Linked DNA regions of Homo sapiens. The protein of the gene in region 4 purifies or fractionates together with the protein of the main gene of each other region. This does not show direct contact. Each region holds a gene or a part of one and is shown on either strand. Other genes may lie near its edges. The genes, in order: TRAM1, HACD2, SERINC1, SLC35E3, VEZT, ANO10 and TP53I11.

The links.
Region 1: the proteins of SLC35E3 (region 4) and TRAM1 purify together in Homo sapiens (affinity purification with mass spectrometry; one large-scale study listed by BioGRID and IntAct). This does not show direct contact.
Region 2: the proteins of SLC35E3 (region 4) and HACD2 purify together in Homo sapiens (affinity purification with mass spectrometry; one large-scale study listed by BioGRID and IntAct). This does not show direct contact.
Region 3: the proteins of SLC35E3 (region 4) and SERINC1 purify together in Homo sapiens (affinity purification with mass spectrometry; one large-scale study listed by BioGRID and IntAct). This does not show direct contact.
Region 5: the proteins of SLC35E3 (region 4) and VEZT purify together in Homo sapiens (affinity purification with mass spectrometry; one large-scale study listed by BioGRID and IntAct). This does not show direct contact.
Region 6: the proteins of SLC35E3 (region 4) and ANO10 purify together in Homo sapiens (affinity purification with mass spectrometry; one large-scale study listed by BioGRID and IntAct). This does not show direct contact.
Region 7: the proteins of SLC35E3 (region 4) and TP53I11 purify together in Homo sapiens (affinity purification with mass spectrometry; one large-scale study listed by BioGRID and IntAct). This does not show direct contact.

Annotation. Positions count from the first base shown.
Region 1 is NC_000008.11:70,575,068-70,577,416, reverse strand, and holds part of TRAM1 (translocating chain-associated membrane protein 1), read left to right. Parts: intron 1-2,349. UniProt on the Homo sapiens protein: Involved in the translocation of nascent protein chains into or through the endoplasmic reticulum (ER) membrane by facilitating the proper chain positioning at the SEC61 channel.
Region 2 is NC_000003.12:123,582,254-123,586,199, forward strand, and holds the start of HACD2 (very-long-chain (3R)-3-hydroxyacyl-CoA dehydratase 2), read right to left. Parts: upstream 2,801-3,946; 5' UTR 2,775-2,800; coding exon 2,620-2,774; intron 2,365-2,619; exon of another isoform or gene 2,149-2,364; intron 77-2,148; coding exon 1-76. UniProt on the Homo sapiens protein: Catalyzes the third of the very long-chain fatty acids (VLCFA) elongation four-step cycle (condensation, reduction, dehydration, and reduction).
Region 3 is NC_000006.12:122,447,808-122,451,307, reverse strand, and holds part of SERINC1 (serine incorporator 1), read left to right. Parts: intron 1-3,500.
Region 4 is NC_000012.12:68,749,176-68,752,675, forward strand, and holds part of SLC35E3 (solute carrier family 35 member E3), read left to right. Parts: intron 1-2,856; coding exon 2,857-3,015; intron 3,016-3,500. UniProt on the Homo sapiens protein: Putative transporter.
Region 5 is NC_000012.12:95,224,307-95,227,806, reverse strand, and holds part of VEZT (vezatin), read right to left. Parts: intron 1-3,500. UniProt on the Homo sapiens protein: Plays a pivotal role in the establishment of adherens junctions and their maintenance in adult life.
Region 6 is NC_000003.12:43,619,212-43,623,456, forward strand, and holds the start of ANO10 (anoctamin-10), read right to left. Parts: upstream 2,801-4,245; 5' UTR 2,698-2,800; exon of another isoform or gene 2,562-2,697; intron 1-2,561. UniProt on the Homo sapiens protein: Does not exhibit calcium-activated chloride channel (CaCC) activity. Can inhibit the activity of ANO1.
Region 7 is NC_000011.10:44,948,084-44,952,303, forward strand, and holds the start of TP53I11 (tumor protein p53-inducible protein 11), read right to left. Parts: upstream 2,801-4,220; 5' UTR 2,594-2,800; intron 2,078-2,593; exon of another isoform or gene 1,890-2,077; intron 1-1,889.

The DNA.
Region 1 (2,349 bases), on a different chromosome or scaffold from region 4:
GGGTGGGCCCAGAAAACACTGTAAGTTCTCACTCCAGTCCATGGAACTGGTGGCCTGGCCCCCAGGTTTCAGGCTGTCCCTGGCTTGAAGAGGGGGGCTTCACCAGGGCCCACCCCTTTCTGCCCAGGAACCTGTCTGCCTCCTGCTGCCATCAACCTGCCATCCGTGGTGCCTAGGCTGGTCATGCCAAGGGGTGCCTACAGACCCACACCAAGCTGCCCTCAGCCCCCCTCGGCCTCCCTCTCGTGCTCATCAGCACCCAAAGTCCTGACAGGGCCAAGGGAGCAGGGAGCTGCCTTGGGAACTTTGGACCTGCTGAATGGCGGGACTAAAAGGGCTATAGCACAAACAAGGCTGAAATATGTCCCCCTGCTCGCCACGTTGTGGATGACAAGAAAGAGAGAAAAGCCCCCAGATCTAGGGGCTCCCTGAGCAGGCATATCAGTGCTGCTCTAATCCCAGGGTCAGTCTCACCTTCACTCCAAAACTAGCAGACGCCAGGAGCAGCAGAGTGGCCAGGCAGTGGGAGCAGGCACTTCCAAGCCTGCAGAGGTAGTAGGGCTTCCTGAACACCGAAGAACTACAGCTGGGTGGCTGCCACTGTGCCCAGGAGTGCGGGACTCCCACCACTCCAACTTTGAAAGGGATGGGGCTCCTGCTAGCTATGTGGAGCACACAGCCCTGGATGCACCTCTCACACTACAGCCAATGTCATGGCAGTAGCCACTCCACAGGGGCTGCCGCTGCCATCACTGAGAAGTGGAGGTTGCAGTGAGTGGAGATCATGTCACTGGACTCCAGCCGGGATAACAGAGTGAGACCCTGTCTCAGAAGAAAAAAAAGATAATACTATTGTTCACATTTTCTGTTTCTTAGTCGTTTCTCTTTTGGTAAATAATGTTTTTCAAGGAATTTGTCTAGTTCATATAAATTTGCAAATACATCGGCATAAAATTATTCATATGACTTTCGTTATCCTGTTAACACCTCTAAATCAGGAGTGATTCCTGTTTTTCATTTCATGTTGTTAGTAACGTAAGCCTTTTATCTTTCCTTCCATCAGTCAAAACCAACATTTGTCTTTTTGTGTTGATTTTCCTAGTTGTCTCTTTTCTGGATCATTGATTTCTATTCTTTCCTTTTCATTGGGTTTAATTTGCGGTTTTGTTTGTGATTTACCTTCTTGAGATGGATCTTTGGAGCATTGATTTGTATCTCTTGTGAATTACATTCAGTTAATGGTAAACTTTTCCTTTCAACACTGCTTTAACTGTATTTCACAAGGATTTTTTGTTTTGTTTTGGGGTTTTTTTTTGTGTGGTTTTTTTTTTTTTTTCTTTTTTTTTTAGATGGAGTCTAGCTCTGTTGCCCACGCTGGAGTGCAGTGGCGCGATCTCAGCTCACTGCAACCTTTGCCTCCCGGGCTCAAGTGATTCTCCTGCCTCCCAGGTAGTCAGGATTACAGGCACCCACCACCACAACCAGCTAATTTTTGTATTTTTAGTAGAGATGGCATTTCACCACGTTGGCCAGGCTGGTCTTGAACTCCTGGCCTCAGGTGATCCACCCACCTCAGCCTCCCAAAGTGCTGGGATTACAGGCGTGAGCCACCATGCTTAGTCTGTATTTCACAGGTTTCAATATGTCTTTTTCATTATTATTCAGTTCAATGATATCTGTGCTGGGATTCCACTTGTGCTGTGATTATAGGTGCAAGCCATTGCCCCCGCCTCAAACATCCATTTCTGTATGCAACTTTTGTATTTTTGGAGAGAGAGTCAGTCACACATACGCTACTCCATCATAGCTTGAAGAAGGCCATTACTATTAGCCAGGTGTGGTGGCACATGCCTGTAGTCCCAGCTATTTGGGAGGCTGAGGTCCCCGGGAGCATCACTGGTCCCCGGGAGTTCAAGACTGCATTGAGCCATGATCGTGCCACTACACAGCCTTGGTGACAGAGTGAGACCCTGTCTCAAAAAACAACAGTAACATAAATAAATAAAAAGAAGGCCATAATACACGCCTCCACATAGAAATTATCCTAAACACCAACTTTACTATATTGTAAACAAATATCCCCAAGGACTTCGCTGTCAAATGTGAAAAGTTTCTTTATTTCTACAGAAGGTATTTCTCTTGAATACTATTTTTAAATTCTTGTGACTTTATAGTTTTCTGTGCTGTCACTTTTTTCTGCTTTTAATAGTAGTTTTCTTTTAATTTGCTACTTTCAGTTCATTGTGTTAAAAATGTTACCAGGTTTTGTGATTGGTTAAATACTGGTAAGTAAATTTCACCTGAGTGAATTGGATTTTACATTTTCTTTTCTGAAGGTATCTTTACATA
Region 2 (3,946 bases), on a different chromosome or scaffold from region 4:
AATTGAATAATAAAGGCTATGGTAGCTACCCTTAGCCAGGTATGCTCGGACCAGACCAACCGCTATAACCAGCCACCTAGTAAAAGAGAAAACAGCAATCAGGAAAAAATAAAAATAAAAAAAGTAGCATTTAGGTTAACACACAGCTGTGGCAATAAAAGATATTGCTAAAGGTGACCTCAAGCATGAGTAACCTGGATTTATGGACGATAGCTCTCAAATGCCAAGCTGTAATGCACTGAAATGTTGCAACACCGACAGCACCTTACCAAGAGGGCTCAGTGAAAGCATAGTGGCACCTCACCCATCTGGAGCTCATTTTTTTGGCAACTTTGCTATTGAGATCAAGGCCAAAAGGAAAGGAATAAGCTAAAATGGTCCTTGTGCCACTAAATCAGGTGCCAAGAAAATCTAAGACGAGAAAAAAACAGTTAAAGGAAAATTTTAAACAGCCTGTGCAGTTAAAGGGTTTTTAATAATTACAGGGTGGAAAGAAGATGCTTTAAACTATTGTTATAATTGTCTCACTGGAACAATTACCCATACCTTAAAATCTATCCTTTTAAAATTACGAATAAAGGGCTCTTGCTAAAAAAAAAAAGTTTTTTAGCCAAATTTCCTAAAATCAATGCAGAAATGAAAGCCAGATCAATACAAACCACGAAACAGGAAAGCACTTAAGCATACAGCTGTGAATGTTATATTTTTGTTCCACTGTCCTTCTCAAAAATAAACACAATGTTTTGTTAAGTTCCATAATAAAACAAATGGACCTTTTTATTAAGGTATGTCTCCTGGAAGGATTTAGATAAATGTATAGTATCAACTAGGCAATGGGGTGTGTGTGGTCTATGCTATTTCCAAAAACTATCACATAAGGACATCAAGTAAGAGTTTGTAAAAGAAGAAATTATTTAATGGTGTAACTGGTACAACCATTAACAGCCTTAAAAAAAAAGCTTACTTTGCTCTCACAATCCCAATTTATCTTCCTGGTTTAAGATACCACTCCTTACCCTCCACCCCATTCTCTATGTTCATTGCTCAGGAATAGACTTCTTTCTTCTTACCAATGTACCTCAAAATCCCTCTCCAGTCCAATGCCCTCACCGGCTCTTGCTAAGACAACAAGAATTTTATATATAAATATTAATACACACAGTGAGATTCCTGGATGTTTTTTTAAAAATCAATCTATGTGACCACTGATGTGATATAAAGCTTGTATCTGTACTAGTTCTTCATTGACCTGTGAGTCAAGAGAAATGATTTCTAGATCTGGAACTTCTACTAACAAGTTCTATGATCTCATGCAAGTCACAACTTCTCTGAGCCTAGGTTCCAACACCTACCATTTCTAATACTAGCAATACATATATGATCCTCCCACGATATATTTTCTTCTTCGTGAAAAAAAAGCAAGGTGCTGAACTGTAAAAATATTAATATATTGGCATTTGTCTTATTTTAAAAAGGGATAGGGGGATGTATAAACATATTTGCTTGCATCAGCATCTTAAGGATACACAAAATTAACTGCCTCGAGGGAGGGGAGCTGGGTAGAAGGGAAAGGTGGGAGGAAAGATTTTCACTGTATTCCCTCATGTTTTTCATTTTTAACCCTAACAATGTATCACCTACTTTAAATAAAAATGGATGTTCACTATACAATTCTTTCAACTCTTCTGTATGTTTGAAATTTTTCATAATAAAATGTTAGGACTTCTTAAAAAATTACAAATGAAGATAACTTAAAAATATATAACTGTCTGATGCTGTGATCCTCCTCACCAAAATGACAAGATAAAGAATTGCAGAGCTGAAGGAACCTTCATCACCCAGACCAACCCTTTAGTTTTACAAATGAAAAAACGGAGGCTAGAGAAATAAGATGATTTATCCAAAGTCACACAGCTAGTTAGTGGCAGAGCTTGAACTAAAAACCCGCCGGGATAAGGGATGCACTGAAATGAAAGAGACAGAAGATGGGTAAAACCGTTTCGAGGGTCCATTCTCCCCCTTTCCAGTAACTCTGCCTTCTACTCCCCAGTTTCTTCCCCACCCCAACCCATCCTAAAAGTCTAAACTCATCTAAAGCCTAGCTCTGCTCATGTCGCTGGCCAAAAACTTTGAACGCTTTCCCAATACCTTTCAGATTAAAGCGCAGCCCAGATTTTGAAAACAGCCGCCCAAATGAATGGTCACTCTGCAGCCACAGCTCCTCCACTCCCCATGCTGGCGCCGTTCAACATCCGAATCTGGCCGCCCAGGACGGGCTCCGCGCCGCAGGTAGTCCGGCCGCTGCCCCCGGCCCCGCACCTGTGGCCAGCCCCACCTTTCCTCCCGCGGCCCTCGCGAGCCAGCGCCCGGCAGCCGTCCCCGCGCCCCAGTGCCTGGGAACTTGGCTCGACCCCCAGCGCAGGAGGGAGCTCGCGGGCAGCCACCGGGGCCGATTCAGCGCTCGGCCGCCCTCAGCGCCCAGGTACCGGGTCCCGGGCACCCCCCGCCGGGAATGCACTGCCTGCGGCGGGCCGCGCCGATCCTATCCGCCCCGCCGCTGGCCGCAGGGCTCCCTCCCCGGCCGCGCTGGCTCCCCGCCTCCCCGAGCCCCAGCCTCACCCGGCTGTCATCACCACATTGTAGATGACCAGGTACGCCGTGGCCAGGGGCCCCGGGCCCTTCTTCTTCCGCGTGCCGCTGGCGTCCCCGGCCCCGGCCCTGCCACCGCCGCCCCCATTCCCCTTCGCTGCTGCAGTCGCCGCCACTGCCGCCATGTCAAGTGCCCGAAGCCCGCTCTCCTAGCGCGAGCGGCTCGGGCCGGACTACGCGAGGAGAGGGGGCGGAGGAAGGGACGAGGGGCAGGCGGGGCCAGGGCCGCGGGGCGGAGCCGGGACAGGGTCCACGGCAGCCGCCATCTTGGCTGAGGGCAAAGACGCTCCTGGCGCTCCCGTCTTTCGGCTTGCCTCAGTTGCCACTGCCATCTTGGATCAGGGTAATTCCCGCCTCTTGGGCGCTCCCGGTTACAACCTCGGCGCCATCTTGGATTAGTTCAATGTAGCCACCCTCTCCAGGCCCGCTGCTTCTGCCAGCTGGATGTTGCGTCGTCCCTCGCTATTCGCCCTCCTATAATCACTGCTTCCATGTTGAATCAAAACAATTATGCTTTCGTTCTCCCTTCTTCAATTGCCCTATCTTCACACCTGAACACTATTGCTCCGGTATCCTGCCATTTTGGATCAGGGCGGTTGACGGTGGATTCACTTCCCATCAGCCCTTGAGGCTGCAGGGACCAGCCCTTTGGTAGGTGCGCTTTGCTTCCTAACCCGTTGCCGGGTTGGAGATTCCACCTCCGAAGTTTTCTTTCTGACTTTTGATTTTACATTCCTAGTACAGTGGAGAAGCCCAGGCGGCCTAGAATCCAGTGTCGTCCGTGAGTGCTTGGCTGGTGTTCAAGTGCATCTTCCAGCCTGAGACCGCGTGGACTCGCTCATCGTGAGGGCGAGAGGAGGATAAGCCCATTGGGCTGTCGGCTGAGAGTGAGGTGCGGGGTAAGGGAGTAGATTTATAGCTATAGTGACTAAAAATAAAAGGATGTTGGCTTAGGTGGAAAACCTCTCTGCTTTGGGAAGCTGGAGCAGCTTGTGGGCATTGCTTCAACCAGCTGATCCCACTTTCCATTCATTGCTTTGTTTCAGGAGGTTCTTTATTTGTAAACGTCCCCTGCAATTTTTTACACACCCAAGCAGCTCCTTAAATGTATTACTGTATATGTGGTAGTATAAAATATTTATGGGTTCATTCCAGCAAGTGTTTATGGAGCGTCCACAAAGTTGCCCTGGAGTTCATGGCACTAAGTGAAAGAGACAAAGTCGTCAGTCTCCCAGGGATTATATAGAGCAGCGGCCCCCAACCTTTTGGTCAACAGGGACCGGTTTCGTGGTGGGGG
Region 3 (3,500 bases), on a different chromosome or scaffold from region 4:
CCTTAATTTGAAAGTACTTTATTTCCAAAAAATGCTAACAGTCATCTGAGCCTTCATCAAGTTGTAATCTTTTTGCTGGTAGGAGGTCTTGCCTCAATGTTGACGGCTGCTGACCGAACAGGGTGTTGGTTGCTGCAGGTTGGCATGGCTGTTTTAGTATCTTTAAACTAAGACCACAATGAAGTTTGCCCATTGATTGACTCCTCCTTTCACAAAATATTTCTCTGTAGCATATGATGCTGTTTGATAGCATTTGACCCAGAGTAGAATTTCCTTCCAAATTGGAGTCAATCCTCTTAAACCTGCTCCTGGTTCATTAAGTAAGTTTATGTAATATTCTAACTCCTTTGCTGTCATTTCAATAATATTCATAGCATCTTCATCAGGAGTAAATTCCATCTCAAAAAACTACTTTGTTCATCCATAAGAAGCAACACCTCATCATTCAGGCTTGATAATGAAATTGCAGCAATTCAGTCACATCTTCAGGTTCCACTTTTTAGTTCTCTTGCTCTTTCCACCGTATCTGTAGCTACTTCCTCCACTAAAGTCTTGAAATCCTCAGTCATCTATGAGGGTTAGAATCAACTTCTTTCAAACTCCTGTTAATGTTGATATTTTGACATTTTTTCCCATGAATCATGAATGTTCTTAATAGCATCTAGAATGGTGAATCTTTTCCAGAAGGTTTTCAGTTTACTTTGTCCACCCAGATCTATCAGAGGAATTACTCTATGGCAGCTATAGCCTTACAAAATATATTTCTTAAATAATAAGATTTAAACGTTGAAATTACTCCTTTTTCCATGGGCTGCAGAATAAATACTGTGTTAGCAGACATGAAAATATTAATCTCCCTGTACATCTCTATCAGAGCTTTTGGGTGACCCAGGTGCATCGTCATTGAGTAGTAATATTTTGAAAGGATCTTTTAGCAGTAAGTCCCAACAATGGGCTTAAAATATTCCGTAACCCATACTTTCAACAGATGTGCTGTCATCTAGGCTTTTTTCTATTCATAGAGAGGCTGAATAGACTTAATATAATTCTTAAGGGCCCTAGGATTTTTGGAATGGTAAAGAACATTGGCTTTCTCTTAAAATCATTGTCTGCATTAGTCCCTAACAAGAGAATCAGCCTGTCCTTTTAAGCTTTGAAGCCAGGCATTGACTGACTTCTCTATAGCTATGAAAGTCCTAGATTATATCTTCTTACAATAGAAGTCTATGTTGTCTTTATTGAAAATCTGTTGTTTGGTTTGGCTGCTTTCTTTTTTCTTATTTTTATTTTTTTGAGATGGAGTTTCACTCTTGTTGCACAGGCTGGAGTGCAATGGCACAATCCCCGTTCACTGCAACTTCTGTCTCCTTGGTAAGCCATTCTCCTGCCTCAGCCTCCTGAATAGCTGGGATTACAGGCCTGCGCCACCACACCCAGCTAATTTTGTATTTTTAGTAGAGATTGGGTTTCACCATGTTAGCCAGGCTGTTCTCGAACTCCTGACCTCAGGTGATCCACCCGCCTCAGCCTCCCAAAGTGCTGAACTTACAGGCGTGAGCAACCATGCCTGACCAGTGTAGCTACTTTCATTAATTTTGTTGGCTAGATTTTTAGGATGACTTGCTGTAGCTTCTGCATCAGCACTTACTGGTTCACCTTATACTTTTATGTTACGGAGACAGTTTCTTTCATTAAACCTCAACAACCAACCCCATCTAGTTTCAAACTTTTCTTCTACAGCTTCCTTCTCTCTCTCAATCTTAATAGACTTGAAGTGAGAGAGAGGGCCTTGCTCTGGATTAGGCTTTGGCTTAAGGGAATGCTCTGCTGGTTTGATCTTCTATCCAGGTCACTAAAACTTTCTCCTCCATATCAGCAATAAGACTGCTTTGCTTTCTTATCTATCATTTGTGTGTTTGTGTTCACTGGAGTGGCACTTTTAATATCCTTCAAGAACTTTTTCTTTTCTTTGCATTCGCAACTCAGCTAACTGGAACAGAAGGCCTAGCTTTTGACCTGTCTCAGCTTTTGGCATGCTTTCTTAACTAAGCTTAATCATTTCTAGCTTTTGATTTAAGTGAGAAAGGGGACTCTTTTACTTGAACAGTTAGAGGCCATTGCAGGGTTATTAACTGGCCTAATTTCCATATGGTTGTGTCTTGAAATAGGCCCAAGGAGAGGGATAGAGACAAGGAAATGGCTGGTTGGTGGAGCAGTCAGAACACACACAATGTTTGTCGATTATTTCACCATCTTATATGGGTGTGATTTGTGGTGCCCGAAAGAAATTACAATAGTAACATAATAGGTCACTGATGAGAGATCACCATAACAGATGTAATTAATAATAATGACAAATTGTGAAATATTACAAGAATTACCAAAATGTGAAACAAAGTGAGTACATACTGTTAGAAAAAATGGAACCAATAGACTTGTTTAATGCAGGGTTGCCACAAACCTTCAATTTGTAAAAAGAACAGTATCTGTAAAATGCTAAAAAAAAAAAAAAAAAAAAATAGGCAAAGCACAGTAAAACAAGGTATGTCTATGTAAGAAACTGGGTGAAATTATAAGAAAGGTATCTGATTTGCATAGAGCATATAATTGTCGTATATAGAAAGAAAAACTCTTCAAATTCCTGTTGATTCAATTGTGAACAGTATAATTTTTTCACATTATTAAATTACTCTTTTAGCCTGTGACTACCTTACAATTGAATTTGATAATTGGGCTTTGTAATGCATCTTATTATAGGCTAGTTATATTGCATACCATGAGAATAGAAACATATGTTGAAAGGAGACAAATTAGAATAGACAAAAATTATTACCTATTAAAAAGAAGAAAATGATCTCTTTTCCTAAAAAATTTATCTGATGTTATATGAATCTCATTGAGTTTACAAACTGTAGGTATTTTATCATAGGTACTTTATAACTTGGAGACCAATTTATTTTTTGTTTTTTTGTTTTGATGTATTACACAAAGATTTCCTGTTTTTTTCCAGGTAGGTGGTTAGAAAAAAATTATTAGTAGTTTGCTTTAGAGAAGGAAATAGCCTTACCTAATTGGCTTTAAGGTAAGAATCATTTTCATTAGTAAGATGGAGTTTGACAGATCTGGCTTTGCAGGAGAAAAATATGTATTTTAGACACTTTAGTGAATATTTTAGCAATCCTACTTTTTTTTTTTTTTTTTGAGACAGAGTCTCGCTCTGTCGTTAGGCTGGAATGCAGTGGCATGATCTCGGCTCACTGCAACCGCCTCCCGGGTTCGAGTCTTTCTGCCTCAGCCTCCCGAGTAGCTGGGACTACAGGCACATGCCACCACGCCCAGCTGATTTTTGTATTTTTAGTAGAGAAGCGGTTTCACCATGTTGGCCAGGATGATCTCTATCTCTTGACCTTGTGATCCGCCCGCCTCGGCCTCCCAAAGTGCTGGGATTACAGGCATGAGCCACCGCACCTTGCCTACTTTCTTCTTTATAAAAGAATAAG
Region 4 (3,500 bases):
TGCTATAGATTAGAATCAAAGGATTCTATATCCCTAAGGTAGATATTTGACATGAGATTGACCAAGGAATGATTGTAGATTAATGGACAGTTTCTTATCAGTAAGTGGTAAAGGTACCATTACAAAATAGGTATATTCCCAAAACATTCCTCTTAAAGAAAGTTGTATCTGCCCACAGTATCTTGGGATAATTTCTATGTTGTTTCTCTTATACTGCTGGAGACATTAAAAGGAGTTAAAAGACAAGTGACCAGCTATTAGCTTGAGTTGTAGAAAGATGGTTGACTCATTCATTCGTTCAGCAGACATCTTTTCTGCATTATGTTCACCCTTGAGGATACAAAGATGAAAAGCAGCTACAGTCCAGCAGTGTAGAAACACAAAGAGACAGCTGGTCACAGTAGCATATGTACCCCAAGGTAGGAGGAAAATTCTGAGGAACACCAAGGAGGAAGTGGCAGCTCTTAAAGAGGGGCGGTGAGGTAAGACTTTACGGAAAAGTTAACAATTTAAATTGAAGGGCACACAGAAATGAGCTCAGCAGGGAAGGACAGCTGGTCTTTTCCTTGCAGTGTGTGTGAAAGTCTGGAGCATTTTTGGAGAACTTGATTTGTTTGGTGAGGCTAGGCAGTAGGTGCATTGTGAGAAGACAAGGCTGAGGAGTGGGTGATACCAGATGTCAGGGTCGTGAAGCCATGCTAAGGAAGTATATCTTTATTGAGCACGCACCAGGAGAGGAGTTCAGACAGGGACTGACTTGATCATTCCCCTGTCTTTAGAAAAGTAACTGATGGCAATGAAGGGTGGGTAAGAGGGAAGGAAGGGTAAAAGGCAGAGCAGTCAGGAACCTACCTGTACTTCACAGGACAGGCAGGAAGGGCCTGGGCTAGGGCGGTGGGAATGGACAGGGAAAGGTTAAAAGGCACTCCAGGGGCGTTTTGGGGAACATAGGAGAACCTGACTGAATGTGAGAGAGAGGAAAGTAAGGCTCTGATCCCTGAGGGAGATTATATCATCAATTATTGGAAACACACAAGAGGAGCCCATTTGTAGAAAAAAGGCACCAGTTGATTTTAAACAAGTTCCTGCAGATTATATAAGTAGAGATGGCCAGGAGACTGGCCAATATAAGGTTAAGGATGCTCAAGCGATGAGGGAAGAGCAGTAGATCTCAGCAAATAGTAAAAGACATCAGTCAGGGCGATGAAAGAGGAAGGCAGGCATCTGCCTTAAAAACTGTTAAGTGCAGGAGGCAGTGAGGGAGGAGTACAAACCAGAGGGTAGTTCTTCCAAGCAAAACTTGCAGGTTCTGCAAAGAGGGCTCGCAGGAAGGGCCACAGGGAGTCTGGACATGTCCATGGAGATCATAGTGCCCTTAGGAGAGCATTAGAGGGGTGGTGGCAGGAGCCAGGCTGTGCTGCATTGAGGGACAGTGGAGGCCTGAGAGCCCCTGCTGTTCCAGGCAGTCCTGTGGCGAAGACACGCGGCTGCCTGAAGAGGCTGCAAAAGGAAAGGCAGGTGAGCACACACCCTCTGTATCCGTTTTTGCTTGCTGCTGTGCCCCAAGGAGCAGGCAGCAGAAGAATCAGTTCTTTGTCCTTCATATTCACAGAGGACTCTTAGTTAAAGCTGGCAGGAGTATGGTTCAAATTCCCTGCTCTTCTATTTTTGTCTTGATGGATTTCTATAGACTTAGAGTTTATGTAACAAGATACCCAGACCTACAGGAACAAGAAGTATGTAGAAGTCATTCAAAAGCCTAGCTGTTCTTGCCAGATCTGATCCAAACAGTCCTGTTAAATCTTCTTCAAAGCCTTTTTTTCAGTTATATTTGTGAAGTATTTTGTGGACGAATGGGATTTGAGGTCTTGAGATGTTGTTTCTACTGAATGGTATGGTATTTTAGGGTTAGTGATTATCCAGTGTATCTAGGTGTATTGGTGGGGGATGAGGAATAGTATCCACAGAAAAGTCATCCAGAGAGAGGAAAATCTCTTCTACCATTGATTGGGTTTTCCAAAGCAACTGACGAGACCACATACCTTTTCAAGCCACACACATTGGCAACCATCTCTAACCTGCCCCCATGCCCCATTGTCATCGTGTCCCCCCAACCTCTGTCTTTGTTTTTTTTTTTTTTTAGACAGAGTCTCACTCTATCACTGAGGCTGGAGTGCAGTGGCGCGATCTCAGCTCACTGCAACCTCCGCCTCCTTGGTTCAAGCGATTCTCCTGCTCAGCGTCCCGAGTAGCTGGGACCACAGGCGCCCGCCACCACGCCCAGCTAATTGTATTTTTAGTAGAGATAGGGTTTCACCATGTTGGCCAGGCTGGTCTCGGACTCCTGACCTCAGGTTATCTGCCTGCCTTGGCCTCCCAAAGTACTGGGATTACAGGTGTCAGCCACTGCTCCTGGCCCCGGTCTTCCATTTTTTAAATTTTGCCATTTTTAGAAAGAAATGAAGTCCAACACTGCATCTGTATTCCTAATCACCTGAATTTCTATTTCTCCCTTATTTTCCCAAGATCTTTTATCCTTGTAGGCCCTTATATGCATTTATTTTTCCCTATTTACTAGGATCAGGTAGAAGGAAATAGAGGACTTTTCTCCTCCTTCTAAGAATTGAGAAGAAGCTAGATTATCAGAAATTAAATTTATAGAGCTATTTTCATCCATGGTGCTTAAAGGGCATTCATATAGCTTACTGGTCTTTGAAATCTTGTAGAATAATTAGACATTTTATCTTCCCCTAGTCTATACCCCACATTCCCATCTTTGTGACTCTAGTTGTCGCATCTTTGATTATGTGATACTATTTCTTTTGTGCCAGACATGTTTTATCTCCTAATTTTCAGTGGGTAGGAGCCAAACAGCATGAATTACAAGTGAACTCAATGCAGCTGCTGTACTACCAGGCTCCGATGTCATCTGCCATGTTGCTGGTTGCTGTGCCCTTCTTTGAGCCAGTGTTTGGAGAAGGAGGAATATTTGGTCCCTGGTCAGTTTCTGCTTTGGTAAGTTCTAATTGTTTTGATATCTAAGAAACAGTATAATAATAACTCCTCCATTATTAATGTAATTTTTAGTTTTCAGAGCACTATGTCCGATCCATTCTCACATTTATCGTCATAATCACCATAAAAGGAGGTAAGGTAAGGATTCTTTTTCAGATGAAGAAATTGAGGTACACAAAGGTGAAGGGACTTGCCTAGAGTGAGGCAGCTACTCAGTGGCAAAAGCAGAACTACAATTAATGTCTTCCGATGCCTGGTTACTGTTCTGACCATGTCAAGCTAGAGCCCACAAATAATTTGGACATTTAGATTAAGTTAAATTTTTTTACAATGAAAACATAGCTTTATAATCACTATTTCGATTTTGAACATACGTAAAAATATAAAGAAAGTGAAGGGGCCAGGCACAGTGGCTCACTCCTGTAATCCCAGCACTTTGGGAGGATGAGCTGGGCAGATCGTTTGAGCCCAGGAGTTTTAGACCA
Region 5 (3,500 bases), about 26 Mb from region 4:
TAGCAAGGTTTAAGACAGATGACCTGAAGTTTCTGCAATTAAAATTTAAGGCCCGGTGCAGTCGTTCATGTCTGTAATCCCAGCACTTTGGGAGGCCGAGGCAGAACAATCACTTGAACCTGGGCAACATGTCAAAACCCACTCTCTGCAAAAAATACAAAAAATTGGCCGGGCATGGTGGCTCATGCCTATAATCCCAGCACTTTGGGAAGCCGAGGCGGATGGATCACCTGAGGTCAGGAGTTCGAGACAAGCCTGGCCAACATGGCGAAACCCCATCTCTACTAAAAATACAAAAATTAGCAGGGTGTGGTGGCATGCACCTGTAATCCCAGCTACTTGGGAGGCTGAGGCAGGAGAATCGCTTGAACCCGGGAGGTGGAGGTTGCAGTGACCCGAGATCACGCCATTGCACTCCAGCCTGGGCGACAAGAGCAAAACAAAATTCCATCTCAAAAAAAAAAAAAAAAAAGAAAAAATTAGTAGGGCATGATGGCACATGCCTGTAGTCCCAGCTACTTGGGAGGCTGAGATGAGATAATCACCTGAGCCTGGGAAGTGGAGGCTGCAGTGAACAGTGATTGTTCTATTGGAGGCCAGCCTGGTGACAGAGTGAGACCCTGTCTAAAAAACAGTTAAGAAAGCAACATCAGAACTTTAATACCTTTCTAAAGTAATTGGAGAATTCTTACTCTCAAAACACTGTAATTAATGATGACGATAACAGAGTAAAACAACAATCTTGGTATTTCATGCTTATTTTGTTAATATTCACATTAGACATAGTATCCATCATTTTCTAAACTTTGTTCTGTTGCTGTTTAGCCTGAGAGGTCCAAGACTGAGGTTATACTGTCCTTCTCAATTCAGCCTCTTAGAGTAGAATGATGGTAGAAGATTCTAATTAAAACAAATGATCTTATAGGAGGAGGAGTCAGGCTCCAATATAATGGAATTAACATTGAAAGTACATACGGAATCTAGCTCTGATAAAATGGGTAATCAGATTCTAGGGCAAGAAATGGGAATTGGGCCTGGGCACTTCACTCTTTCTTTCCTCCCTTAGTCCTTCTCTTATATTATCATCTTTCAGTGCACATCTAGTCCTCTCAGACTAAGAGGACTCAAAGTGATCACTGGAAGGAGAAATACAAATGACCCAAAATATAGTACAGTAAAATTTACAAATAATCCAAGAAACAGAAATTAAAACAAGATACCTCAAAGAGTTTGTTTTAAGGGAAGGGATGTTGTTGGAATATTATCCAAAACTCTGCATGATTTAAGTTTTTAACTTTCATGCAGCATGTAATTCTCTAGGTAAGTCTCAATACATGAATGACTCTGATTTCTATCTGAAGATCATTAAAATAACAGTATTACAACAAATATACCAAAAAAAAAAAAATCACAGTTAAATTTTCTTAGGGGAAGAGAGGTTCAGCCCTAAGATAGATATGGTAAATTGGCTTGGCTTGTTCAATCTCTATTCTATAATCCTTCTTCCAATGTATCTCTTGTGTTACAGAGGCAGGAAAGCTACATCTGAAATTTCCCAAATTATCTTGCAGCTAGGATTCTAGATATAAATCAGGGTTTCCCCAAGTAGGTGTATGGTGTAAGAGATTTGGAAGGTGGAAGAAGAGCAGAAGTCCACTTTTTGCTTCTTTGGCTTTTGTTTCAACTGTTCTTTTTTTTTTTTTTTTTTAAATAAAGGCAAAGTCTCAATCTGTCACCAAGGCAGAGTGCAGTGGCCTCATCAAAGCTCATCACAGCCTTGAACTCCTGGGTTTAAGCAATCCTCCTGCGTCAGCCTCCTGAGTAGCTAGGGCTAGAGATGCATGCCACCATGCCCAGCTAATTCTTTAAAATAATTTTTTGTAGAAACAAGGTCTCTCTATATTGCCCAAGCTGGTCTCAAACTGCTGGCCTCAAGTGATCCCCCCACTGCTGGCCTTGTTCTTTCATTTGTCTGTTCTCTCATTCCTTCTCTTCCCTCCATCCTTCTCTCTCTTTTTTTTTTTTTTTTTTTTTTTTTTTTTTTTGCTATGAAACAAAGCTGTGGAGGCAAAATGTTTCTATAGCAGTATTCCAATATGGATTCTCCAGCTTCTTGATAACACAGCTGCAGGTGTGGTAGAGACAGTGGAGAGACTCCAAGTTCCAATACCAAGGTATCACTTTGTTAGGTTATTGAGAGGCAGATGTGGTGATGGCTTTTGTTTTGTTTTGTTTTGTTTTGTTTTGTTTGAGACAGAGTCTTGCTCTATCGCCCACGCTGGAGTGCAGTGGCGCGATCTTGGCTCACTGCAAGCTCAGCCTCCTGGGTTTACGCCATTCTCCTGCCTCAGCCTCCCGAGTAGCTGGGACTACAGGCGCCCGCCACCAAGCCCGGCTAATTTCTTTTTGTATTTTTACTAGAGATGGGGTTTCACAGCATTAGCCAGGAAGGTCTCAATCTCCTGACCTGGTGATCCGCCCGCCTCGGACTCCCAAAGTGGTGATGGCTTCTAATTCCTGGATTGTAACTATGATCATGATCACGTGCTCTTGTCTTCATGAGCATATAGCAACTTTGATAGAGCTTGATCCTGTAGGCCTTCCGATGATAATCTAACCATTAATTCCCTATGTTAAATTCCTTTCTGCTTATGGCACATAGACAGGTTCCTGTTTACTGCATTAACAGGGGTCCTCAACCCCCAGGCCTGCACAGCACTGGTACCGGTCCATGGCCTGTTAGGAATACAGCCCGAGGCCAGCAGGATGGTGGGCCAGTGGGTGAGCAAGCGTTACTATCAGAGCTCCGCCTCCTGTCAGATCAGTGGCAGCATTAGATTCTCATAGGAGCAGGAACCCTATTGTGAAATGTGCATGTGAGAGATCTAGGTTGTGAGCTCCTTATGAGAATCTAACTAATGCCTGATGATCTCAGGTGGAACAGTTTCATCCTGAAACCATCCTCCATCTGGAAAAACTGTCTTCCACGAAACAAGTCCCTGGTGCCAAAAACCAGTCACTGTGCATTAGGATGTATGGGTGACACAGTACTTAGTATCTAGAAGTAGGGCTGACTCAGCAGAACCTGAAATATGTTCCACTGGCTGAGTAATCAAGTGGTAGATGGCAAGAAAACATGCCTTACAAGCTTTCAGCTCTTCAAAAGAAGGCCTTTCTCAGTCAGTGGCCTGAGATCTAAGTTGAATGAAAGTGGTAATAGGGGTAGAGGGGGTTACAGGTCTCATAGGTGGTAAAGCCCAAACACAGGAAATAAGATGGCTGCTCCTAGCCTTTCCCAAGAAGAATCCCGTGATAAGAGTTACAGGTTAGCTGGACATGGTGGCACCTGCCTGTAGTCCCAGCTACTTGAGAGGCTGAAGTGGTAGGATCACCTGAGCCAGGAGTTGGAGGCTGCAGTGAGTTATGATGGTTAACACTGCATTCCAGCCTAGGCAACAGTGCAAGACCCTGTCAAAAAAAAAAAAAAAGTTGTGGCTTTA
Region 6 (4,245 bases), on a different chromosome or scaffold from region 4:
TTCTAGCAGGCCTGCTTCACTTTACAGGTCTGCACCAGGTCATCCTGTTTAGGAGGATGCTCAGGTTAAAAGAGGCTAAGGACATATGACGACTAAATACAGTGTAGGATCTCAGACTGGATCCTAAATATTAGTGGGACAATTAGTGAAATTTGAATAAGGTCTGTAGATTACACTAATAGAATTGTATCAATGTCAATTTTCTGGTTTCAACAATTGCACCATCGTCATCTAAGATGTTCACATCTGGGGAAGCTAGGTGAAGGGCATAAGGAAATTTGTACTATTTTTGCAACTTTTTGTAAATCTAAAATTATTTCAAAACAAGAAACTTTTTAAAAAGAGCCTCTTCCAGGGGCTGGGCACAGTAGCTGAGGCTTGTAATCCCAGCACTTTGGGAGTCCATGGGGGGTGGATCTATTGAGCTCAGGAGTTCAAGACCAGCCTGGGCAACATGGCGAAACCCTGTCTCTACAATAAATACAAAAAAAAAGAAAAAAAAAATTAGCTGGATACGGTGAAGCTCTCGCCTGTAGTCCCAGCTACCCAGGAGGCTGAGATGGGAGGATCACCTGACCCCAGAGGTCAAGGCTGCAGTGAGCTGTGACTGCACCACTGCACGCACTGCAGTTTGGGCAACAGAGTGAGACCTTGTCCAAAAAAAAAAAAAAAAAAAATCCTCTTCCACCCAAAATTCCGTAATTTCCTAACACATACACACAAAAACTCATACACATTAAAAATAACAGTTTTGGATTCACACATGACATGAGATTTATTGTGAGCTTTTAACCATTAAAACAAAGGTTTACTGCTTATAAAAACAGAAGGCTAGAGACAATTTAACTGACAGATGAGAAAAAGGCTTAGTACAGCTCTCATGCAAGCCATGACAAATATATCCATTTGAGGAACACTGATTTTTCACCTCCAAGCACAGTACTAGGCACATAACTAAAACTCTAATATTTAAAAAAAGAATGAATCCACATGATGAATGATTATACAAGCATTTTCAAAGATGTTTAAGAAGAATTTGATCCACAAAAATGCTAAGTGAGAAAATGTAAGGTGGAAAGAAAAAGCAAAAGTATGAAGTAATATAACAATATTACCCCAATTAGGTAACAATACTACCCTAATTTTGTGTACATTCATATACACAAAAATACAAAAATTAGGAAGAAATGCATCAAAATGTTATTACATGTGGCAAAACTACAGATTTTAATTTTCATCCTTATAATTTTCTCTGTCTTCCAAGTTGTCTACAATGAAAAAAGTTGGCCAGCACAGTGGCTCACGTCTGTAATCCCAGCACTTTGGGAGGCCGAGGTGGGAGGATTACCTGAGGTCAGGAGTTCAAGACCAGCCTGGCCAACATGGTGGAACCCCATCTCTACTAAAAACACAAAAATTAGCCGGGCATGGTGGCAGGCGCCTATAATCCCAGCTACTCGGGAGAATCGCTTGAACCCGAGAGGCGGAGGTTGCAGTGAGCAGACATTGTGCCACTGCACTCCAGCCTGAGCGACAGAGCAAGACTCCGTCTCAAAAAAAACAAAAAGAAAAAAGTTTCAGTGGGTTTAAGTGCATTTACACACTTCAATTTATCAAGACTTTTCTATGCCCTTCCATTATTTTAGATCTTTCAAATTTCATTCATCTGCAACTCTACGATTCTTTCAGCAACAGCTGTTCAGAACAGATGATTTACTTTCCATAGCGAATTTTAAACTGTTTATCATGCAGAATGGGCCCTTAGAAAACATCTAGTCCTCTAGATTTGTATGACTTTAAATTAAAAGTAGACACTACAAAGTGGATTTAACCGCTTTAAACCCCACAGGATTAGATTTAAACTCCGCAGGATTTAAGGCAATATGATACAACTGTGTCTTGAGTCTGAATAAACCTCAGCTGCACTTTTTAAGTCTGGGATCTCCATACACCGTCCTGCTGGAATATAAGGTTTTACAGAAGGCAGCGCACACCAATGCTGGTGCTGTGAAGGCACCCACAAAATCAGACGCTGCCTATAGGGGAGAACCCCATTCCATCCACGTTTCTCAGGTGTCCCAGGCACTAGCCAGACAGGTATCTATTATTTAAACTGTACAGTATGTCCCAGTCAAAAGCCTGGAAACTCAGTCACCTCGATGTGAGCATTATCCTGCAAGCCCGCTCCGGCCAAACCTGCTTGGAGACAGCCTAGTCCGCCCTGATCCCCGGACTGCCCGGGAAGCAAGAACCCCGGGACCCGCGAGCTGACCCTTCTAAAAACCACCCTTCACTCCGCTCCGCCGACCACCCCACTCACTGCCTCCTTCCCCAAAGCGCTGAGGCCCCCAACATCCTCCATCCTGACTTCACCAGCCCCAAATTTCCGCCTCACCGCCTTTCTCTCAGGACTCAAACCCTCGCCCCAGACCCATAATCCCCTCCACAAACCTCTCCCCTCCCCTGCGACCGCCGCTCCCCGCAACACCTTCACTCGTCCCTGCCCCCACAGCCCCCGCGCCCATCCTGGTCCCACTTCCCATCCCCAGGGGTGCTGGCACCGGGAGGCGGCCCGGGAACGCAGGGCGGCGACCAGGCGGAGCTCCTGGAGCCTGCAGCGGCCGGGGCTCTGTGGCTGCAAGGGGCCGGGCTCTGCTGCGGACAGCTGGGGGGTCCGAGGTGCCCTCCCCGACTCACCAGCCGCCGCAGCGCTCCACGTCTTCGGAGGCGGGTCCGAGAGCCGGCGAGAACCGGAGGCCGGGCGAAAGAGTGCTCGGTGCGGGGGGCGGGCCAGGCCAGTGGGGCGGGCGCCGCCGAGCGCTGGGCGTGGCGGACGCGGCGGGGCCTAGATGCGGTCACACGCAGGGGGGCGGGGCCGCGGCGGGAGAGGCGGGGCCTCACTGGGCGGTAGCTCCGGGAGGGGCGGAACTGCGGTGGGAGGGGCGGGGCCTCACTGGGCGATCGTAGTGGACGAGAACCTAGACTGGAACCGGTCCGAAGAAAAAAAGGCAGCCCTCATTGGGCTGTCGCCTGGAACAGGAGACCAGGCCGGGAGAAAGGGAGGGGCGTGCCTAACGTACTGTACCACCCATCGAAATCCGGACGGCAGCGGGAGAGGCGCGGCCGAGAAGGCAGAGGCCTGGTTGGGCTGTCACTCCGAGCCGGGGCGGCATGTGGCTGGGCTCTCCAACCGCGAGCGGTCGGGGCAGGGGAAAGGAATACGCCCCTTCACATTTCCCTCTTCCATCTCTTAAAGACCAGAACCTAATTTTCTGGTCACTTTCAGGTATAAGAACAAGTCTCATTTTAACTGTAGCTCACTTTCAAGTTGTGAAAAACGCAGATCCTTTTATAATTAAAACCTAACATCCAACCACAGCCAAATCCCAAAACCCTTGCTCCTCCTAGAAATCGCCAGACACCTTTCCACCTCCAGGCTCAGAGTCTGCCCCAGCCATTCCTTCTGCCCAGAAAGCTCTTCCCTCGGTTGGCTGCTTGGCTCACTTCCTCACCTCCCTCAGTGTTTGCTGGGCTCTCACTTTCTCCCTGAGGCCCTTTCTGACCATCCTACTTAATACCTGTTCTCATCTGCTCCTCACCCCACCATTTCCTTACCTGCTCTCCTATTTCTTCTGTCCACCACACTTTTTGACTTTTTGTTGTTGTTGTTTTGAGATAGAGCCTCGCAATGTCACCCAGGCTGGAGTGCAGTGGCGCAGTCTCGGCTCACTGCAACCTCCGCCTCCCGGGTTCAAGCGATTCTCCTGCCTCAGCCTCCTGAGTAGCTGGGATTACAGGCGCGCACCATCATGCCCAGCTAATTTTTGTATTTTTTGTAGAGACAGGGTTTCACTATGTTGGCCAGGCTGGTCTAGAACTCCTGACCTCAGGTGATCCGCCTGCCTCGGTTTCCCAAAGTGCTGGGATTACAGGCGTGAGCCACCGCGCCCTGCCGGCTTTAAGTGTTTTTAGTTACCCAGGGTCTACCACAGTCTGAAAATAGGTGAGGCCAGAACAATAAGATATTTGGAGAGAGAGAGAGAGACCATATTCACCTTTTATTACAGTCTATTTTTATAATTGTTCTATTTTATTATTATTCATTGTTGTTAATCCCTTACTGTACCTAATTTATAAATGAAACTTTATCATAGTATGTATGTATGTGTAGGAAAAAACATAGTATACATAGAGTTTTATACTATCCTCAGTTTCAAGCATCCACTGTGGATCTTGGAATGTATC
Region 7 (4,220 bases), on a different chromosome or scaffold from region 4:
CGATGCTGCGCTGGCCCTGGGAGGGGTCCAGCCAGTGTAGCAGGATAAACAGTGAGACACAGGGTGCCGGGGAGGTATCGTGGACCAGGAGTCAGAACATCAGGCACCCCGCCCTGCAGCTGCCTCTCCTGGCCTGTGTGTCCTGGGGTGACTGACATACTGTCTCTGAGCCTCACTTCCCTCACCTGTGAAAGGGGAGGAATTCATCCCTTCTCAGTCACTCACTCTTCCTCAGCCCCTCACTCCCTGCTAGCTGCAGGGTAGGCACATTCCAGCCTCAGGGCCTTTGCATGGGCTGTGCTCTAGCTGTCTACACAGCTCACTCCCTCATCTCCCTCAAGGCTGTAGCTCAAAAGTTACCTCCTCAGGGAGACCTCCCTGACACCCTATTTAAAATGACAACCCGGTCCCTGGCCTCAATACCCCCAACACAACTTTTCCCCTTCACCTCTCAGTACACTATATAATTTGCTTATTGTTTTTATTAGGGAATTGCCTCCCCCTGCCCCCTGCTTTTAAGCATCAGCTCCATGAGGACAAAAATTTTTATTTTGTCCACAGCTGTCTCCCCAGTGCCTGAAACTGTCCCTGGCACTTTGCTCCATAAGCCATTTTTGGTGTAATGCTCACAAACATTTTGTTCAATAAGCAAAAGTAAAGAACAGCCCCAAACTGTGTGACTATGGGGCATTCCTGTTAAATCCAGCCCCCTCCTCCCCCATACCCCAAGAGGGGCAGGCCCTTCTTCCCACAGAGGTGGGGCTATCAAAAGAAATTGGGAGGCTGGGTGTGAGCTGGAGAAGCCACAAGGGGCCTGGAGGCAGAGCTGTGCAGAAAATAGGTCGCAGTCCTAGAACTGGCAGGTCATGACAGCTGGACATGGGTGAAGGGGCTTTCGGCCTTAGCCCTCCACTCCAAATTTGGAAGCACGGAGGAAGTTGACGACATGTGACTGGGAAAGAAGCGGCCATGGCAGGGGCCTCCTGGGATGGTGGGGACAGAGGGGGCCTCAGGAACAAGACGACCCATTTTACAGATGGGACAACAGAAGCCTGGAGAATAGTCTTATTTCCTAACAACCCAACAAGAAAAATCTTTTCTCTCCTTTCTCGAAGTCTGGGGCTGAGGCTAAGGAGCGGACAGTGCCCCCTCCTGGCTCTGCAACAAAACGACCCCCGCGTCCCTGGGATCTGCGGGCCGCAGATCCTGGTCCCCTCTCCACAGGCCGTCAGGGGTGGAGGTCCAAGGGACCACATAGTTGGGGTGGGCAGCCCCGGTGACTTCTCCCCGCAGGCCCGCCCCGTCAAGAAGTTTGTTTGAAAGAAACCAATCAGGAAGTGCAGGGTAGTGGGGCGGTGAGGGGGCCTTGGCCAGCCGCTCTGGGCTTTGGAGGAGCCTGGGGGTTCTTGGCCTCCGCGCTGCTCTTGCCCCAGCCTCCATCTCTCCGGCGGAGAAACCCACTCCCCCCGGGCTCCAGGAAGAGGCGGAAGCCCGAGACTGGGTCAGGGCGAAGGAAGGTAGAGCGAGGGGACCCAAGGCGAGCGCCCCGCCCCGCCCCGCCCAGCGGGGCGCGCCGGGGTGGGCGCGGCGTTCTGGCCCTTCCTCCACACAGCCTCCCCCGGGTAGGTGCGAGTGTTCTGCCCACGGCAGGGGCCCTAACCCACCCAGCGCCCGGCCAGTGGCCCCACACTGTACCCTTCCTGCAGATCGCGCGACTTTGGGGAGAGTGGGGGGCGTCTCCACCTGTGCGTCCCCTACCCACCCCCTAACTGGGCTAAGGCGCGGCCTGGGTTTCTGCCCGCCCCTTTCCAGCCTGGGGACGGGGGACTCTCTCAGCCTCGCCCCTCCCCCTGCAATCTGTCCCTGATGTCCCCGCTCCAGACACTCACCCACTTTCTGAGACCCAGGCCTCAGCGCCGGTGTCCCCCGGCGGTGAGCTCCGAGCCGTTAGGCGGCCCCGGGTTCTCCGGCCCAGGGCCCCTGCCCCCAGGCCCCCACCCCAGAAGGTCGGGCCAGACTTGTGGGCAGCGGGAACTCCGCCACCACCTCCGTCCGCGGCCCTGCGGGGGCAAAGACTGGGGGAACTCGCAAGTTTGCGCCGCGCACTCCTCCTGCCGGGAACAATGGCGGGAGGGGGAGGGGACAGAGAACCGAGCGCGGGGGACCGAGTCAGACCCCGGGGAGACAGAAACTGCTTTCGCTCCGTTTCTCTCCTGCTCTGAAGCAGAAAGCTCGAGCCCGAGAGGCAGTGGCCGAGGACGAAATAAGCAGTCCAGGAGGAGGGCGACCGCGGAGCCGGGGGAGAGGGGAAACCGAGTCAGAGGGAGGGGCGGCGAGGGGAGAGCGCGCAGGGGAGACGGAAGGGGCTGCGGGACGGCGCCTTGGGGAGCTGGGGAGGCGACCCCCTGGGGTCCCAGCGGGCTCAGCGGGTGCCGAGATGTCCCGGGGCGCCCGGTTAGCGCGCGCGGGGTCCCGGCCGCCCCTCTGCGGTCCCGTCGGCCGCAGGAGCCCCGCTGGGTTGCGCTGCGCAGGCGGCGGGCGGCGGGAGGGGAAAGTCCGCGGCTCGGAAGCGGCGGCGGGGAGCAGAACTTACGGGCCTCGCGCGTGCCGGCGCTGGGCTACGTGGAGCTGATGCCAGGCGGAGGCTCCGGGCTCGGACGCCTCACATCGCGCCGCCCGTGCCGGGCCGGGCAGTGCAGGGCAGGGCAGGGCAGGGCAGGGCAGGACAGGGCAGGGCAGGGCAGGGCCGGGCCGGCTGGACTGCGCGCGGCGCCCTGCGCGGCCGGGGCTTACCGAGTCTGGCGGCCCGCGCTGGTCCCTCCTCTCGGTTCCGCGCACAAGCCAATGGCGCGCCGTCCCCTCCCACGCGCCGGGCTGCCTCGCCCCCAGGGTGGCCGCCGGGGCGGGCGGGATGGGGGTTGGCGGGGAAACCAGGCTCCCGGCTCCCCCGCGAGGCTCTCCCGGGGGCCGCCTGCAGGGGGCGCACGCGCGCCCGAGAGAAGGCGCCGGGGGAGGAAGCCGCGCGGGGAGACCCTGGCGTGGCCCGCGCCGCCCAGGATGACTTTCCTGGCAAGTTCTGCAGACGGTGCCCCTTTCTTGGGACGATCAACGTAGATGGGCAAACCACACCATCTTAAATAGCCTTGCGGTGTCTCCCGGGCCCAGGCCGGTGCCTGAAATGGAAGGGACTGCTTTGGCTGGCGGTGATACCCAAGTGTGTAATAACACAGTCACGACAATAGTCACCGTTTGCTGCGCACTCTCTGATGCCAGACACCATATGCTAAAGGAGTTACAAGTATTAACTCATTTGATTTTCACAGCAACCCATAAGGGCGCTGTGCTTAGTCCCATTTTACAGGCCATGGTCGTTAAAGTTTGAGTTCACTCAGCCTTCAGGCTTCCAGCCTAGGCCCACCCTTCTCTCTCCCTGCTTGGTGTGACTTGGCCAAATAACATGACCCCACTGTCACTACGGCCACCTTCTTCATACTCCACCCTAAAATCCAGCCTCAGAGATGCTGCTGTCAGTTGCGCTGTCAGGAGGCTAGGATCTTATCTGGGGCTCTAGGACGCTTGTTGGCGCTACAGTTGTCAAACCTTTTGTCTCTACACATCCTATGGGGGGCTGGGGTGAGGATGAGGGTTGGGGGTCATGGAGGCTCTCTGGTGGCGTGTCAACCTGAGAGAACCAGGCTCCTACAGACAAGGCCCCACCCCCAAATTCTGGGCTCCTTCAACCCCTTATGGTGGGAAAATAATGTGCTCTCTCCCACCCCAACCCCCACCACCCTGTGCTCTCCTTAGAGAAATGCCTGGATCTCTTTCATCTGATCTGATGGTCACAGTGGGCCAGGAACCGGGGTGGGGGGCTGCGGGAAAAGGAAGGCAAGGCTGATGACATGCTCCATTTCACAAGTAAATAAGACAGAAAGAGGTGAGTGGCTGCCTCAGGCATCTAGCTAGGTGGGCATTCTGACTCCAGGTCTCGGTTCTGTCTGCACCAGTTCCTTAACGGTTAATAGAGCAGGCTCTGGAACCAGATCACCTAGGTTCAAATCCTGACTCTGCCTTTTAGTGCCTGTGTGGCCTTGGACAAAGTAAGTCACCTAGAGCAACCAATAGTAAGAACCGGCTATGGTTGCTGTAGAGATTTAGAGTTAATAGGAGCTGCTCATGTTTACTGTGCATGGACTCTGTGCCATGCAGGCTCCCACTGT